Linked DNA regions of Homo sapiens. The protein of the gene in region 1 purifies or fractionates together with the protein of each later gene. This does not show direct contact. Each region holds a gene or a part of one and is shown on either strand. Other genes may lie near its edges.

The links. Proteins that work in one complex are often made in the same cells at the same time.
Region 2: the proteins of QKI (region 1) and RNF6 purify together in Homo sapiens (affinity purification with western blotting; one study listed by BioGRID). This does not show direct contact.

Annotation. Positions count from the first base shown.
Region 1 is NC_000006.12:163,557,718-163,561,217, forward strand, and holds part of QKI (KH domain-containing RNA-binding protein QKI), read left to right. Parts: intron 1-3,500. UniProt on the Homo sapiens protein: RNA reader protein, which recognizes and binds specific RNAs, thereby regulating RNA metabolic processes, such as pre-mRNA splicing, circular RNA (circRNA) formation, mRNA export, mRNA stability and/or translation.
Region 2 is NC_000013.11:26,215,815-26,219,314, forward strand, and holds part of RNF6 (E3 ubiquitin-protein ligase RNF6), read right to left. Parts: intron 2,793-3,500; coding exon 2,697-2,792; intron 1-2,696. UniProt on the Homo sapiens protein: E3 ubiquitin-protein ligase mediating 'Lys-48'-linked polyubiquitination of LIMK1 and its subsequent targeting to the proteasome for degradation. Negatively regulates axonal outgrowth through regulation of the LIMK1 turnover.

The sequences.
Region 1 (3,500 bases):
CTCCATTTACCCTGATGTGATTAATATGCATTATATGCCTGTATCAAAATATCACATGTACTTTATATATACATACACCTACTGTGTGCCCACAAAAACTTAAAAAAAAAAAAAGAAATATCGTGACTGGATATTGCACTTAAGATCTTGGGAGTCCACTGCATGTGAATTTTGCTTCCATTTTTTAAATGATTCTTGAATATAGGGCAAATACTTAGGAAACCAGAAGCTATGAGATTGCGGATAATCACTTGAGTTCAGTATTACAAAATATGATTTTAATGACCCATTTTACAAATGTAAAAGTTAGTGTTCTGTCTCTGTAGAGTTGCTCATTCCCGATCAAGGTTCTGCAGGATACTTTGTGAACTATCTGGAGTTGACATGTACAACTTCAGGATGCCCTGTTTGATCAGTTGTAATTTTTGAGAAAAAAAGAGGTCAGAAAAACTGGTCTGAAGACTGGCTCATAGAAGCTCTAGAGCCTCTAGACTGTAGAAGAAACTTAGTTTTCTCATCTGAACTTATATTTGAAAAAGAGGTGATATATACCTTCAACAGTGTTTAGGCAGGTACGTACTACCAAATCTCATTGTCAAAACCAGGACAGTAACATTGAAATAACCACTTCGATGTGAAAGTAATTCTATAATTAACCCTGTTGTCTCTTCTTTTTTTTTCTTTTTCTTTTTTTTTTTTTTTGAGACAGTCTCGCCCTGTTGCCTAGGCTGGAGTGCAACGGCGCGATGTCGACTCACTGCAACCTCCGCCTTCCAAGTTCAAGCGATTCTCTTTCCTCAGCCTCCTAAGTAGCTGGGATTACAGGCACCTGCCACCACGCCCAGCTAATTTTTGTATTTTTAGTAGAGACAGAGTTTCACCATGTTGGCCAGGCTGGTCTCGAACTCCTAATCTTCATGATCTGCCCACCTCAGCCTCCCAAAGTGTTGGGATTACAGGCGTGAGCCACCACACCCGGCCAGTGAACCCTGTTGTCTCTTAAGACACACAAGATCATGCCCTGTGAATACAGAGTGGAGGGGAGTGGTCAGGACATGAGGGTGAAGCCCATCCTGGACTGAGACCACCTAGAATCAAATTCCAGCTCTGCCAACTAAATCCTGTGCATTTCTGGGAGGCATTAGTGTACCCTGCCAAAATGTGGCTGTGATCTGGTGTAACATACCATCACCTCCAGCAACACCATATGGCAGACTACACCAGGATCTCCTCCTATGCCACTCTTATTTTTATTCTCTTAGGGTGATCTCTCCTGTTTTCATTATCCTGCACCCTGCACATTACACAAGTGTGCACACACAGTGGTAATCACACACATTTCTTCCATCTTTTTTCTCTGTGGTTTTCTCCCTTGTTTGACACTCCATTGCCAAATAATGAATAGCTATTTTGCTATCCAAAAGGAGCAGTTCAGTGCCAACATGTTTTCAAGCACCTGCCCTTCTGCAGGAAACTCGTCTTTCGTCTTTATTTCCTCTTTGTTGGAAGTAAATTTGCCCTCTTATTTGCTGACATTTTCAAACTTGTACCACTTCTTTCTCGCTATGGTAGATGACTGGAGGTAAACCTACTGCTCTTCTTTTTCTTTTTTTATGTAGAGTATAATTTATAATACTTTTGGTATTCCATTTTTATATATAAATTTAAATTTGAAACTTTTGATAAGTTTTAATTTTCAAATGACTAGTTTTTAGCAAATAAGTTGAAGTTTTATTATAATGGATTTGATTCTTCTTTTCCAATAGTAGCTTACTTATTTCGTTTTTAACAAATAATTTCTGTGTCTTTCTAAGATCATACTTACTTTTTGTTCATCTTTGTACAAGTTGATAGGAGTCAAATTCTACAGGCATGCCAGTATCCACTCCCTGTAATCTTCTGCAAAGTAGGTTTTTAAAAAGTTGGCAGTAGCACATCAAAACATTGTCTTTATGTTTCACTCATATTTTTCTTTAATTCTTGTGATTTACTAAAAGCTCACTGAACAGTTCTGTTTACTATATATTATAGTATACCATTCACCATTGTAATGCCAAAAACAGAATTTTGTGTGTCATTACAGCTATAATAGAAAGGAGCACTGAGAAGCCTGTGTCCTGGTCGTCCTTCCCGTTTTATGAATCAGAGAGGAACAAGACTATGTCAGAAAATTGTTGCATTGTGTTACTTTCATTGTAAATATCACAAAGTCATGTAAAGTTACTGGGATTCGATGATACATAAAAGTGGGGGGCAGTTAGTTCTATCTCTACACAGACTTTGATAGATGGACCCTCATCTACTGCTTGCTTTGACTGTGGCTAAAGTTTATGTTGGACTGAGACATTTGGGATTTGGAAATAAAGTTAAAGACTTCTCATACCAGTCACTTATAAGTTCTAGTAAGTAACTTGGGGGTGGCCGTGGGAACATGGGGTTAGGCAGTGGTAACAAAGAAATAAGCCCTATTCTCATGGAGCTTACTTTGGGAGTGGTGATACTCAACAGACTGTAATTTGAAGTAGAAGCAATTAACTTTGTCGATAGGTTCTTGGAGATACAACTTTAAACAAAATGAGTATATTGCAGCCTCTTTTTTCATCAATGTTATAATGAAACCATGTTGAAAGCAGTGGCATTATTTGAGGACCTGCTGTCTGTCGTTTCACTTAAAGTTAGTTTTAAAGAATGTATTGACCACATTAAGTGAGGATCTACTGTAATCTAGGGATGGCCCCTGGAGAAGGAAGGTAGCATTTAGGTTGAAGTTTGTGGGGATGGGGATAGGTAGGATTTGGAAAGAGAGAGGGGCAGAGAGTGCGCAGGGGAGCACTTAGGATGGAGGAAGTGGGAATATGCACAGAGATGAATGGTGGAGAGCAATCTGGTTTGACTTAAGATGTTACTTACATACGTGTGTAAAGTAGTAGGTTAATGGGCTTAACTTGAGAGGATATTTTGGGACCAGATTATAGGCAACTAAAGTTTTTTATATTTTTAGATAGTAAGAAACCATGAAAGTGTTTTGAGACAGAATGTTGAGAAACATGATGAAAATTGTGATTTGGGCAATTAATCTGGCCTTTGTGTAGAGATTGATTGGAGAACAGACACCATTAGCAACATGTTTTAGTAGTTTGGGTGCTATGCCAAAAACAACTGGAACAGTAAATGGAAAGAGTGGGACCAATTCAAGGTAAATGGGGTGGCCAAACATTTTGATGATTAGAGACTATCCTGATTTAGGTTTGAAGCATGGTTATTATTAGTGCCCATTTTTGCTTTTAAAAGTTTTCTGCTTTGGACAATAAATCATATGGTGACCCTAAAGATAGATTGCTGTAGCATTGATAGCACTTGCTAATTAGATTGAAAGGAGACAGGGATGGTGGTGTAAGAGAGCAGAATATACGGTTTTTTAGAAGTTATTATTTCACTGAGTTTTCATATTTTGAAGAATTAAGCATAAAATTTCCTTACCTAAATTCTGTAATCAAATC
Region 2 (3,500 bases), on another chromosome or scaffold:
TACTATTTATGCAACGCTATGGAGAAATCCTCATTCTTACTTTCTATCTGCCCATTACTAGCAAAATACTAAGGCAAATGAGAAACATGTCCACTACCAAAAGTTTACATTTAAATTGCTTTATCAATATAGTAATATCAATAAAATACAAAGACAAACTTTATGTAAAATTTGTCCTGTATTTGTGGAATCTTTCTGGAAAAGCCAACTCAGTCATTTTTGCAACTAGGTATTTCTGTAATCTTAGAAATTTTTCCTATTTCTCAGGTGCTGCCAAAAATGTACACATCAAGAAATGTGAGTTTCTGAATATAACATTAAAACCACATTACTGTATTTGTCTTTGTGTGAAGCTGAGAAACCAGGCAAGTTACTTAAGGTCTCTATGGCTGATCCTTGTCTATAAACTGGAGTTAATAATAGAATCAATCTCATAGGGTTATCCTGAGGATAAAATAAGACGCTATATATAACATAATTAGCATAATATCTGGCACATAAAAAGCCACCCCATAAATGTTAGCTGTTATACATAATAAAATACATTTTCTATTCATTTAGAACGTAAGCTCCAGGAAAACAAAGATTTTTGTAGTTTTAGTCACTGTTACATCTCCAGCCTCTACAGCAGTATCTAGTATAAATCAGACTTTCAATTAATATTGCTCAATTAATCAATTTAGAAATGTGTCACCCATAAACTTTTTTGACTAAGATACTGCCACTGTGCCAAGCTTAAATTTTCCATTTATAACCAGTAGATATTATATAAAGTACAAAACTTAATAAAAAGCATCAACACATTAACTACACAAACTTCAACTTTAAAGTTTGTTCTACTCAAAAATAGCTATTATAGGCCGGGCGCGGTGGCTCACACCTGTAATCCCAGCACTTTGGGAGGCCAAGGCAGGCAGATCATGAAGTCAGGAGTTCGAGACCAGCCTGACTGACATGGTAAAAACCTGTCTCTCCTAAAAATACAAAGAAATTAGCCAGGCATGGTGGCGTGCGCCTGTAATCCCAGCTACTCAGGAGGCTGAGGCAGGAGAATTGCTTGAACCCGGGAGGCAGAGGTTGCAGTGAGCCAAGATTGTGCCACTGTACTACAGCCTGGGTGACAGAACAGGACTCTGTCTCAAAAAATAAATAAACAAATAAATAAAATAGCTATTATATGACATCATTCTGATTTCATTTCATTCCTGCAATCTCTCTCGTAAGACTTTTTTAAATGCTGAAGTTGAAGCTATTAATCAGCTGTTGATGCCAATAAAATAAACAGCAACTGAGCCATATTCCAGAGATGATGAGCTATTTTATATTTGATGAGTACATTTTCCACTGAAACATATTCAAAAGATCAGTATTAATTATTGCATCTATATAGTACAACTTACATATCTAAACACAAATAATAAAATGTGTTAATGTCCACTTCCCATTTGTTTGGAAAAAGAATGAGTAAAAGGCAGGTGAACATGAATTATTTTAAATGCTACTTCCTTCTTTGATTAACATTTGATTAAGTGTAGTGATGATGGTGCATGTGAAAGAGTTTGCCAAGTACCTACTCAAAGCTACCCTACTCTTCTTCCATTGTAAAAGCATCGGAAATTGGCTCGTGGACAGCCTGGCAGTTAGGTGTGACCATGAGACTAAGTTCTCATGAATGGAATGGGAGAGTAAGCGATACATCCTACTCTCACGCTAGTGCGTGGACCTCCTTCCTACCAGCTAGAACCTAGATATGGTTGCGACTTACCTTGATCATACAAATGGTACCCTGGAGCAGTGATGCCCCATAAATCTTTCTGAAGTAATGAGTATGTTCTGTATTTGTGCTGTCCAATACAGAAGCCACTAGCCAAATGTGACTATTAAGCACCTGAATGTGGCTAGTATGAATGAGCTAAATTTTAAATTTAATTTGATTTTAATTAATTTCCATTTAAATAGTCACATGTGGCTAGCAGCTACTGTACTGAACAGCACAGTTGTAGAATCATTCTGTTAGCTGAGTGGGTTCCAAGAGGATTTCCTTCCCTGGACTGTTAACGTAAGTAAGAAACTTCTAGCTTATTGAGCCATTGCATTTTGGGGTTTTTACATAGACTTCATGGTAACTAATACAATGATTTTGATATAATATGTGAAACTACTAATAAATACCTCTGAGGAGGGAAGTAGAACTGGTTAAGAGGAACACAAAAGTGGCTTTTCCTTTTAACTCTACATACTTCATTTAGTTTGAAGTTCTTTTATAGTACTTTCCTTATAAGAACTTTTTATATGTAAACCATCAAACAGAACAAAGAAACAAAAACAGGTTTCCTAACTCAGTCTTTCTACACGGTTCTGTATATAAATTTTTAGAAGCTAAGTAATATCACTTTAGAAAAAGTAATGTGTACATTCCAAGATTAAAAAGAAGCATGCTGGGAATTAACTTAATTGTATATTATTACATAAAGCTCTCTGAAGGCAATCTGTGTGTTTAAGACATCTTTGCATTCATTCCTCTGTCCTATACTGCTTAACCATACTGCTTTACTACTCATATATATATTATCTGAATGAGTATCACATTAAAACTGGAAAAAATTGAAGACAAACATACTATACAAGGTCTAAGAATTTCATTTCTGCAAGTGCTCCAATCAAGCCTGTTCCTTATGGAAAGGACTCCATAGTACCTCTGTAATTCGTTCCATCTCTCAAGTCAGGCTGAGATGCTAGTTGTTCCTTGACGCCATCTAACCGCTGTTGCAGTTCTTCTGATGTTATTTCTCCTAAAACAATGAAAAACTGCTCATTTAAGAATTCTGAATTAAGTTTTATGAGACCTCATGAAGGGTAAGACTAATCTTTAGTAACCTATAGAAGACAAATGTCTTATTACTTTCATATGTTCTGTAAATTGAAGACAGTTAAAAATATTCAACTGGTACAAATGTGCATCAATTCGGTTGTGCTTCATTTATTAATCTTTTATTAAAAATTATTAAAATAAGATTTAATTTGAATAGTTGGTAAAGTGCTGCCAGTTGATACACTTAGGAATCTATAAGCTATAACTGTGGATTTTTGTCAGTTAAAAAGAAATTAAGGGAGCATTTATAGAGAAAACTTCAAATATTTACTTGAATTTTATCCCAAATACTTCATTATATGGGTCATCAATATACAAACACACAATATATAAACATACAAATTTCCATTAGTTCATTTGTAAAAACTTTATGGAACACATTGGGCTTTGGGGGGAGCTATTAATTCAGCTGAATAAATAAATTATAATACCCCAAATGAGTTCAAATTGGGTTTTAAGTCATATTTTATTTGTATAAAAATTACAAATAGGACCATATATGTAAATACTTAACACCATTATGTACATTAACCTGTTTCTTAGTTTGGCATTTGTATAATAGTGCTCCATGTCCCCTATTTTCACCTTATAAAATACAGAAGCCAGTGATTTTCTACTTTATTATACT